3 linked regions of the Homo sapiens genome follow. The protein of the gene in region 2 purifies or fractionates together with the protein of the main gene of each other region. This does not show direct contact. Each region holds a gene or a part of one and is shown on either strand. Other genes may lie near its edges. The genes, in order: DPCD, RUVBL1 and ACTL6A.

Region 1 (3,652 bases), on a different chromosome or scaffold from region 2:
GGGGCTGACATAAGCACAATGAACACTCCTAGCCTTAGGCTTGAGGTAGGAGCCCAGATCAAATGTAGAGGCTGGGAGAGACGGAAGCCCTCGAGACAACAACGTTCCTGAGCATAATCTGGGCACCAAAAGTGGAATGCGAGTCCTTTTGACCAGTAAAATTCATCCCCACCCCTCACCCCAGACAAATGAGAGAGGGAGTAATTCTAAGATGTAGAGAAACAGTTGGGAAAAAACTTTACAGAGGAGGTGGTATTGGAAGTGAGCCTTGTAGGTTTAGGAGGGATAAGGGCAGACTTTCACAATTTGTTTTTCCTTGTTTTTTTGTTTGTTTGTTTTGTTTTCTAAAGCCACACCAGGAGCAAGCGAGTATCAGAGGCAGAGCTTCTGAGCTTGCCTCAAAGGCAACACTATAAAATATGGTCCTTATTTTGAAGAACATCTCAGTCAAAGAGGGTCAAAACAGTGATTTTGCAGCGTGGTCACTTTCATTCCTGCAGCGCCTTTCCTCTAAGAACAGGCTCATGGGTAGGGGCTCCAGCTCAGATTTCTGGGAATTATTTGATTTGTCCACTCTGTTCCCAGGTGTGCACATCAGCATTAACCAGCTTCCCAGAGCTAGGTGGCTGGCTCTTTGACCCAGGGCCCAAGGCTGTCAGCAGTGGGAGTTGGTCTCTTTATTAAGTTCCATCTGAAATGCTAAGACCAATGATGGAATCACAGGCTGGTTTATTTTCTTGTCATTATTCTTGGCTTTAATTTCTTCCTGGGCCTGATCGACAGGTAGTATTGGTGAGGGAATTTCTTTTTCCTTTTTTCTGACAGCTCATAAATGTCTAGAACCGACAACATGGATTACACGGGCTTGCATTCCCTCAGTCTCCAGTCTTAAAATGTTTGTCCTGCGCATGTTCAGTCGCACAGTGAAGTGTTGATCCCTCCTTATTATGAGCTGCTTGGGCTCCAGTCCCAGTTGGTTTAGTCTGGTGCTATTAAAAATCTTGATGTGTTTAGCATATGACACTGATTCGGTGGAAACCAATACAGTAGTAATATCCTCACAATGCATTGTAATTTATAGTGCTCCCAGGGGATGACAGCCTTGGAATGCCTAACAGGGGAGAACTTATGAAAGCAGAGGTCACGTGGACTAGCCACCACCATAACCAGGCCAGAGAATAGCCGCAGCTCCTCACTCCCAGCCCCCCGTGCCACTTCTCTACTCCTCCACACAGAGCAAATAAAACAGCTATAGCTGCTGCGGCTGTAAAAACAAACAAATAAAACCCAGGCCTCTTTGTTGTGCTTGGATATGAAACTGAAATTAAAAACAAGTCCAGGTTTCTTCATTTGTAGCACCATGTGCCCTGATATCCCTTATTAACCTGTCACTTCTCCTAGTGGCAGGTGGGGAATAGACCATGGCTTCCAAACTCCTCTTTCTTAAAAGCAGAAATGGAGAAGACTGTTCACAGGAGAACACTGTTTGGCTAAAGTTGACCTAATAATGATATTAATAGCGTGACTCTTACTGGGCACCATGCTAAGTGCTCTACGTGAATTACCTCATTTACTCGTCCTCGTTAAAGCCCTATGAGGTAGATACTCTTGTCTCCATTTTACATTTGGAAAAAATGGAAGCTCAAAGAGGTTAAGCACCTTGTTGAGAATTATGTAGCTAGTTTCTAAGCCAGGATTTAAGCCTAGTTCTGTCCAATTAAGAGCCCATGCTTTAGTCCTCAACAACATAGTGCTGGGAGTTGAGAACACTTAAATCCAACTTTCTTTTCTTCTTACTGTTTTTCTTTCCCCAGAAAGGCCTGAGTGTGGACTGATGGGCAGACAGGAGGACCTCACTTGAGCCACTGGGCCCAGCTCTAGAACAGCAGATCTTTTTCTTACTCTTCTTCCTATCCACCACTGCTGCCCTGGCAAAATACTCTCCATTATTAATTTTTAAGTATAAATAATCCCAGGGGTTGAGCTGGCTTTTGCTTGTGCATTCTATGAAGTAAAGTAGGGACATGGTTTTTGTGGCAATAAATAGGAATAGTTTCCATTTTTCTAGCTAAGTATACAAATTTGATAATTAGCCAAACCAGTTTTCTGTTAGAAAAATTCAAAGTAATTTACAGAGGAAGAATTGCCAATAGGTGTGCGTCAGTCTGGGACAGAGTTCCTCCCGTCGGTGTTAATAAGCATGTTAGTGTCCTGTTTTTTTCCTACCCTCTCAGTGCTATTCATTCCCACCCCCCACAATGATTGCTGCATGTATTCATAGAGGAAAAAACTGAAGGCCCCACAACAATGATCGGAACATCAAACCAGCCTGAGAAGAACACAGCATGTCCAAGGGGGCTGAGGCTGAAGGGCAGGCCATCCCCCAGCGATTACATTCGGATTACCGACTTAATCTGCTTTGGTATTTGACCGCCAGCCTAACCACCCCAGGCTGCATTTGGAGGATATTGAGCACTTTCATCCCCAAGCACTTCACTGGCTTTATAAATGACCCACTCGATTCCCTTCGGCCTCCTCTGGGATGGGACATGGCAGCTGTTTAATTGCCACATAGCAATGTTGCAGTGTTTTAAGGCAGAAAAGAAGAATCCTGCATCCAGTTGAAGCTGCAGGGAACATTTAGGGAAGGGGAATGTAATTATCCACATTGGAAGTGGGCCAGGGTTTGGAGCTTTGGGGAAAGAGGCCTTTAGGACTTCTACTTTCCAGCCCACCTGAAAGATGGGGCCTCCTTTCAGCAGTCTGGGACATCAGCCTGCTTCCTGCTGATTTAGGAAAAAGCCCCCAGGCGCCACCTCCTTTATATATTCCCCATCAGACTCTTCACCGGGGTGGAAAGTCTCTTTTCCAAGGTCTGGCTGGGGCTCAGCTGGGAAGATATGACAGCGTCCCGGGAAGCTGCCTCACACCAGTTTGGGTTTAACATATAATCAAATCAGAGTGACAGCAGATGGAAACAGTCTTCTGTTGCCGCAGGAGCCGTCCTTGAGTTCAGAAACAAAGACGGGGGCAAGAAAGACAAGACAAAGTGTGCATTTGTACATGTGTGTTCACACCCATGCACTTGTGCATAGGAAAAATAAGAAGGACTTCCCCAAAATCTTTTATTGGGTCTTATCTCTAGAGGGAATGGGAAAGGAGACTTTCTTCTACATTCTAACAAAGAATTTAATTCTCAAGGTGTTTAAACAAAAAATAAAGGTGAAGCAGCCAGAGGTGTCAAGTTCCCTGAGTGGTTTTTAAGGTCAGAAGTAAGGAAATCAGCAGCTGACTTTCTTCCTTCTTTGAGTACTTCTTGGGAAGTTTTCTGTGTAAAACTCAAAATTTTTTGGAGTAAAAGTGCACAGAAAACCCTGGGGTGGTTGTCGTCCCTCCAGGCCACCTTGGTGCATTATTATGCATTAGGACACCCATTTTAGCAAGGCCCATGACTTACAGGGGCACCTCACTTATCCAGCCCTAGGTCGTGAGGTAGTCCTCATAATTTACTTTTTCAGATAATCAAAGCTTACCCTTTAAAGGCCAAATATAAAAAATAAATTGAGCTACTTAAAAAAAAACAGAAACCTTTCAAAATATTACATGTGCTTATTGAACACTTTCAGAATAAAGTTTTATTAATAATTCAAAT
Region 2 (3,652 bases):
AATGCTGAATAGCTAAAGGCAGCAAATGTTTCCTGTCTGGTCCTCAAAACTGCCTTGCCAAGTAGGAGGGAACTCAAAACCGAACCCCAAACCACAGAAAACCCAGAGACCCAAAGTGACAAATTAACCAAGCTGGTCAGTGATGGAGCAACACAGTTCCTGACTTCTGACTCCCAGCCCAGCACTCTTCTCAGGTCAAGGGCTCCCAGGAGGTCAGTTTGGGGATGGCCATTTCACCAACCAAGGGGACCTGTTGGTCCAAGATGAGTCTTCAGTAATCTCTTGACCAAAGCTCCAAGGAACAAAACACCCACGGATCAAATTTCAAGTCAGAAAACAAACTATTCCCTAATAGTGACTATTCACTATTTCCTAGAAATGTCATATAGTGATAACATCCTTTCCTGCACTTTACTAGCCAAGGCATAAGTATCCATCTGTATGAGAAGCAGACAACAGTACCAGCTCAAAGCTAAAACACTGTGGCTTTTGCTAAGCAGGGGGAAAGAAAGAGCTTTGTTAGGCTTTCTGAAATCCTGTAAAGGGCTCATAGAACACTCCTGCCCTCCTGCCATTAACACCCAGAAAATCCCAGGTGTGAGCCCACTGCTGGAGTGAAGCCATGGAGGAAGCTGGCTAGCTCAGGGCCAGAGGCTTGGCTGGGATAAGAAACAATACACATGAAATCATCTGTGACTAGAGCATTTGAATGGGAACAAAGGAGTCCCTCGTAGCTCATGTCGATGTTAATTGCTGAACATTACAGATAGAAAAGGACCGTCTACCTCAAGAAAGGCAGCAAGACTCTGACAATTCATTCCCAGATCTCCACACACATACAAAAGGGCTAATGTGCCAGATCACCCAGGCATCGAGGCAGTACCTGGGGCCGCGCATTAGCCACATCCAAGTCATGCAAGGTCACATCTTGGATGATTTCTTTCTTTTTGTGCACATCCCCTTTTGGCAAGGGGACATACTCTTCAGCTTCAAGGTCGAATTCTGTGGCATAGGTATCACACCTGCCCTGCCTCTGCAAAAAGAGAGAAACATGAGTGCCTGGTAAGTTTTCACTGCCAAGTCCCCAAATGGCACAGGGCTAAGTGAGATAAAGGTCTCAGTTCCCACTGCAGGCCTGACAGCCTACTTGACAAACTCCAAATATGCCCCACTCCCCTGCTGCCAAGAGAAGGGAGCTATCTGCTCATCGCTGGGCTCCAAAAACTGGGTTGAAAAACACCTGATACTTTCTCCCAAAATCCTTTTTCCCTTCTTTCTTTTAACTGTATGCAATTCCTGATAAAGGCCAAATCCAGTAGATTAACTGGAGGCAGAGGAGCTGCTCAGACTCTTTTGTAGGTGGATGATTTATTGTATGATATGAAGTATTATGCCCATCCATTAAACAGTGAGGAACACTGTACAGGACCCTGAAAATCAGATAGAAAAGAATGCCAACGAATGCAGCGTTCCTTCCCACATGCATATATCTTGGGAAGAAAATACCAAAGAGATAAAAGGAAGATTAAATACACTGCACATTTCAATTTGAAAGTGACTAAAGTTGTTTTGGTTTCTCACCCTGTCCTCCCCCTCTGAACAGGTTTTAGTATTTTTTCTAACAGACTATCTGTTTTAATCGCGAGAAGGTTAAAGAATGAAGATAAAGGGAAGGCAAACTTTATTATACATAAAGGGCCACTAGTTGACCTTCCATCAGCCTCATAACAGACACCAGCCCCTCCCCACACACCCCACACCCTCTGAAGAAAGCAACTCCCTTGTCACTTAGGTCTTCTCATGGCAAACAAATCAGGGACAATGCTGTGTCCCAAGGAAGGCATTACCTTCACGGCCCCACTGTTGGCTTCAATGTAAATCACATCTCCAGCTTCTACTCGCTCTTTCTGCAAACTTTCAAAAATGCTGGGGTCCAGCTAAAAAAAAAAATGTAAATCAGAAGTGTAATACATATTCCATTTCCTTCTGACACCATGTAAGGTACCTTTCCGTAAGGGATCTGAGGTAGCTAGCAGGTGCATGGAGAAAGCCTGTTTTGCGTTTGCATGAATACTGGGACCTGCAGGAGTGTGAATGCATAAGTACCACACAACAGACTGGCTGGGGGACTAAGCACACCAGGGAGAAAATAGGGGGGCCAGCATACCTGCATCCCTATGTAACGAGCATGAGAGGGACACAGGGGACACGTACTCTCCTCTTTCCCTTGATTCCAAAGGCTGTAAACTGGCAGCAGCGCTTTTATAAGGATGGTCCTGGCTGCCGTGAGACGGGTGGGCCCAGCCCCCACTGTCCACAGGACCACAGGCCCTATCACCCCTCTTGAAATCATCATCCCTACTTCACTCCTTCATTTGCCTCACCTCAGGTGGGGTGGAACTTTCCACAACTGAAGTACCTGCCAGCACCTGCTTACCAATCTCAAAGCTGGCATCTTGCAGGGCCTTTGATTTTGGATAAGGTTCTCAGTTCTAAGTTTCCTCATCTATACAACAGCACCCAGGTGCAATCACAGATGTATACAGTAATTCAAAGAAAAACATAAATGAGAATCTTTCCCAAGCCTTTTGACTCACATCCCAGTGTTTGTGCCCTTGGGTCTGCCTGCTTATATCTCCAGGAAAGGAAATAAGCAGATTTGCGGAACTGTTGCTTTTCTCCAGATTCTGGTGACCCTCAGTGATTAATATTCTAGGACAGCTGCCTTTGTAAGGATTCTATAGTTAAACACAAGTTTCTCGAGGTCTTCATGGAGATCTATGTTATACAATGTAGCTATGGTGGAAAAAAAACTTGGGCTTTGCCCAAACAAAATTAAAAAGTGAAAACCCAGGACTTGGTGAAAGAAGCCAGATACAAAAAAAGACATACACTGTATGTTCCATTTATATGAAATGTCCAAAAGAAGGCAACCGAAAGTAGATTAGTAGTTGCCGAGGGCTATAGTTGGAATGGGGAATGACTGTAAATGAGTAGGAGGATTCTTTTTGGGGCGATGAAAATGTTCTGAAATTAAGATTGTGGTGATTGTACAACTGTGAAAATAAATTAAAATTCCTGGAATTGTATACTTAAAATGGGTGAGTTTTATTTAAAATGCTATCTGAATAAAGCTTTTAAAAAACTACCACCACAGCAGCAAACCCAGGGTTCTGCCTCTCCTTAGCTGGGTGGGGACGGCAGACCCTGGCAGAACTGCTGTGAGTCTGTGCGCCTAAGGACAAAAGTGGGTGAGGCCCCCAGGTAAGGCCTGGCAGGAAGGGGTCATGAGTACTAATGGCATTCTCGTTGCTAGAACTCAGAAGACTCCTTCAGACTTGAATATCCACCAAGTATTTGAGCACCTTCTATCCAAATATCTTGTACATATTCTAAAAATACCTAAAAGTATTCATTTTGGAAGAAAAATTTCATCTTCTCCTCTACATTATTTTTGTAAAGAAACTGTACAAAGCAGTGTTACAAATAGCTGAAATTTAAACTGTACGCCTTATTTTATCTGTCCTACATTGGAGAATATACTTCTTTTTTGCCTCAAGCATTTTTATATCGGTTAATTTCCCAAATGAATTGACTGAAGATGTAATTACTGGAAAGGTGGCAGATGCTACTGAGAAATCTAATTAATTCA
Region 3 (3,652 bases), about 51 Mb from region 2:
TCCCTTTAATAAGTAAACTGAAATTACCCAGTTTTAGTGTACCATTTCTTAACTGATTGAACCTCTACTTAAATACGGTGTATGCCTTGTTATATTTTAATTAAATGATTCTTTAAGGTGTATTTGAAACTAGGTTCAAGTGAGTAATAATATGAATATAATTGGGCTGAGTGCAGTGGCTCATGCCTGCAGCACTTTGGGATGCTGAGGCAGAGGATTGCTTGAGCCCTGGAGTTTGAGTCCAGCCTGGGCAACATAGTGAGACCTTATGTCTACAAAAAATTTAAGAAATTCATTGTAGTCCCAGCTATTTGGAAGACTGAGGCGGGAGGATTGCTTGAGCCTAGGAGGTTGAGGCTGCAGTGAGCTGTGATTTTCATATGATACTTTTGCAAGCTGTTAATGCTAATTATCTTTAATCTTTTCAGATGAAGTTGGAGCCCTTGTTTTTGACATTGGATCCTATACTGTGAGAGCTGGTTATGCTGGTGAGGACTGCCCCAAGGTAAGTGTAATGTTAGAGTTAATTGGATATGTAAAGCCATTCATGTAAATTAAATTTATGCAGAAATTCTGATTCAAAACAAAATATAATAAAATACATTAATTGGGGAAAAAATGCCTTCTTGATGAAAGGTGAAACTTGTATGTCATGTTTCTGACTCTTACAGGTGGATTTTCCTACAGCTATTGGTATGGTGGTAGAAAGAGATGACGGAAGCACATTAATGGAAATAGATGGCGATAAAGGCAAACAAGGCGGTCCCACCTACTACATAGATACTAATGCTCTGCGTGTTCCGAGGGAGAATATGGAGGCCATTTCACCTCTAAAAAATGGGATGGGTATGATGTTTTCCCCATGGAATTGATTATGGAGTGTACATGTTATATTTTAGATACAAAGTAGTAGCTTCCTATAAGTTGAACATCAACCATGGTTTTTTGTTTTGTTTTGTTTTTTATTCCACAAACTGATTTCCAGACACTGAGAATACAAAGATGCATAAGAAATGTTCCTTTTCATTAAAAGCTTACAGTTAGTTGGGGGAAATAGATGTATATATACAAATAATGGTACACTGTGGGATAAGTGGTACAATATAGGTATGTGCAATGAGCAATGGGATTAGAGAGGAGAGGTATTTGACTCTAGTGTTGGGAGTCAGTGATGGTTTTCACAAAGGAGGTAACATGATGAATCTTGATCAATGAGTAAGAATTAGCTTGGCTGACAAAGCTGGGTAAAGCAAAGGGACCAGCATGTGTGAAGGGATGGAATTGTGAAAGAAACTTATGTGCTTGAAAATGTAATACAATTAAGTATGGTTGCAGCATTGGGCTTATTAGGGTCAGTAGCAGGAAAGGTAGGCAGAGAGCAGTAGCAGGAAAGGTAGGCAGGGAGCAGTCATAAAAGGGCTTGTAAACCATCCCAGGGTTGTATTAAGCTAGTGACTGAAGGATAACCCCAAAGGAATTTAAACAGATGTGATGGTCAGAGTCCAGATGAGAAATGAAAAAGGTTTAAACTATTATATAATGCTGGTAGAGATTCTGAAGGGACTTTCAGGGTAACCAGGAGACAAATGGTACTAAATGATCGAGGGAGTGAAAGCAAGAGAGAAGTTGAGAAAGTTTCCTAGATTTTTGGTTGGGGTAACTCTGAACAGAGAGTACCATGCATTGAGATAGGAATATAAAGGGAAGGAGCAAGTGTTACGGTTTTAAAAGGCATGGTTGGCCATGCGTGGTGGCTCGCGCCTATATAATCCCAGCACTTTGGGAGGCTGAGACTGTGGGTGGATTGCTTGAGTCTAGGAGTTTGAGACCAGCCTGGGCAACATGGCGAAACCCCATCTCTACTAAAAATACAAAAATTTGACAGGTGTGGTGATGCGTACCACCTGTAATTCCAGCTACTTGGGAGGCTGAGGCATGAGAATCACTTGAACCCAGGATGCAGAGGTTGCAGCTGAGATCTCATGACTACACACCAACCTGGGTGACAGAGTGAGACTCTGTCTCAAAAAAAAAAACAAAAAAAAAAAACAAGCTTATCAGGGATAGCCAAAATCACTCTCAGGTTCAATTATTCACCAGCAAGACTCACTCACAGGACTCAGCATATGGTTGTATTCACAGCTAAGATTTATTGTACTGAAGATTCAGATACAAAACAAAATCGACAAAGGGAAAAGGGACAGGGGATGATGAAGTCCAGATACAGGCTTTGGAGAGTCTTCTCACAGTGGAGTCACACAGGATGTGCTTAATCCCTCCAGCAACAAGTTATGATCTGTGTTACCTTCCAGGAGAACTCTGAGGCTCAGTACCCAAGGATTTTACAGAGGGCTGGTTATGTAGGTACCATCTACCTGGCATGTAACAAAATTTTAGATTCTCAGAAGGAAAGCAAGTGTTCAGAACAAACCACATTGTATAAACAGTGTAGGTATAGCGAGCTACCCTTACCATTTAGGGACAAGTTTTATATGAACATAGGGAACTGTTTGCCAGTCATGTTTCCAGACACCAGCTAAGAGTCAGCCTTACAAGCAGGCCTTTCTCAGGCTTGCAGTGTTAACTCTTTCATGTGTAGTAAGTAAATGGGTTCACTGAGTTCAAAGTACTTAGAACATCCAGGTGATAATTCAGTAAACGGGAATAAAAGGTTATAAGAAAGATTTTAAGACATGGAGTTGCATTTTATTACTCTGAAAAAAATTGGAACATGAGAAGAGGATTGAAGATGGAGTTCTAGCAAAAACTTGTTGTATATTTTAACCAATAGAGAATAAAAGGTACCCTTGAAGGAGAAAGAAAGGGAACAATTAGGGATGTAGGAAAAAAAGCAGGGGAAGAACAAGAAAAGAAAAAGTTTCTGGAAGCATAAAATTCCAGTTATTCTCGGTGTTTTCTGCTGTGACATTGAAAGCTTTACACTAAGAAAGAAGTTAAAAAAATCCAGGTGGGCCTGTGGAAATATATAATTAATGACATTTTTTCTTTGGGCTGTGACAGAAAAGTTTGTAAACTCTTGTGTAGGCAATACTGTCATAATTTAGAGAAGTCAGATGAGATTAAAAATGTTAAGTATCCATGAATTTGCCTAGTAGAAGGTCATTAGTGGCTGGGGGCGGTGGCTCACGCCTGTAATCCCAGCACTTTGGAGGCTGAGGTGGGTGGATCACCTGAGGTCAGGAGTTCGAGACCAGCCTGGCCAACATGGTGAAACCCTGTCTCTACTAAAAATGCAAAAATTAGTTGGGTACGGTGGCGGGCACCTGTAATCCCAGCTACTCGGGAGCCTGAGGGAGGAGAATTGCTTGACCCCAGGAGGCGGAGGTTGCAGTGAGCTGAGATTGTGCCATTGCACTCCAGTGTGGGGGACAGAACGAGACTCCATCTCAAAAAAAAGAAAAAAGAAGGTCATTAGTGACTTATGTCAGTAGTTTTAATGGAATGTTTAGGTGGAAGCCAAATTGAAGACAGATGCTCTTCTTTGAATTTTTAACATGTCTTTTAGTCTTTTTCCAAATAGATTGTAAGTTTTTTTGAGTGTCGGGTCTAGACCATACAATTCTTTCTTTTTTTTTTTTTTTTATAAATCCAGCAGTAGTATCATCAGAAGGCCATACAATTCTTCTGTACT

What was found.
Region 1: the proteins of RUVBL1 (region 2) and DPCD purify together in Homo sapiens (affinity purification with mass spectrometry; 7 studies listed by BioGRID and IntAct, with this or other methods). This does not show direct contact.
Region 3: the proteins of RUVBL1 (region 2) and ACTL6A purify together in Homo sapiens (affinity purification with mass spectrometry; 11 studies listed by BioGRID and IntAct, with this or other methods). This does not show direct contact.

The regions. Positions count from the first base shown.
Region 1 is NC_000010.11:101,594,779-101,598,430, forward strand, and holds part of DPCD (protein DPCD), read left to right. Parts: intron 1-1,814; coding exon of another isoform or gene 1,815-1,861; exon of another isoform or gene 1,862-3,236; intron 3,237-3,652. UniProt on the Homo sapiens protein: May play a role in the formation or function of ciliated cells.
Region 2 is NC_000003.12:128,099,712-128,103,363, forward strand, and holds part of RUVBL1 (ruvB-like 1), read right to left. Parts: intron 1,938-3,652; coding exon 1,848-1,937; intron 1,034-1,847; coding exon 884-1,033; intron 1-883. UniProt on the Homo sapiens protein: Possesses single-stranded DNA-stimulated ATPase and ATP-dependent DNA helicase (3' to 5') activity; hexamerization is thought to be critical for ATP hydrolysis and adjacent subunits in the ring-like structure contribute to the ATPase activity.
Region 3 is NC_000003.12:179,569,396-179,573,047, forward strand, and holds part of ACTL6A (actin-like protein 6A), read left to right. Parts: intron 1-428; coding exon 429-505; intron 506-671; coding exon 672-846; intron 847-2,127; exon of another isoform or gene 2,128-2,375; intron 2,376-3,652.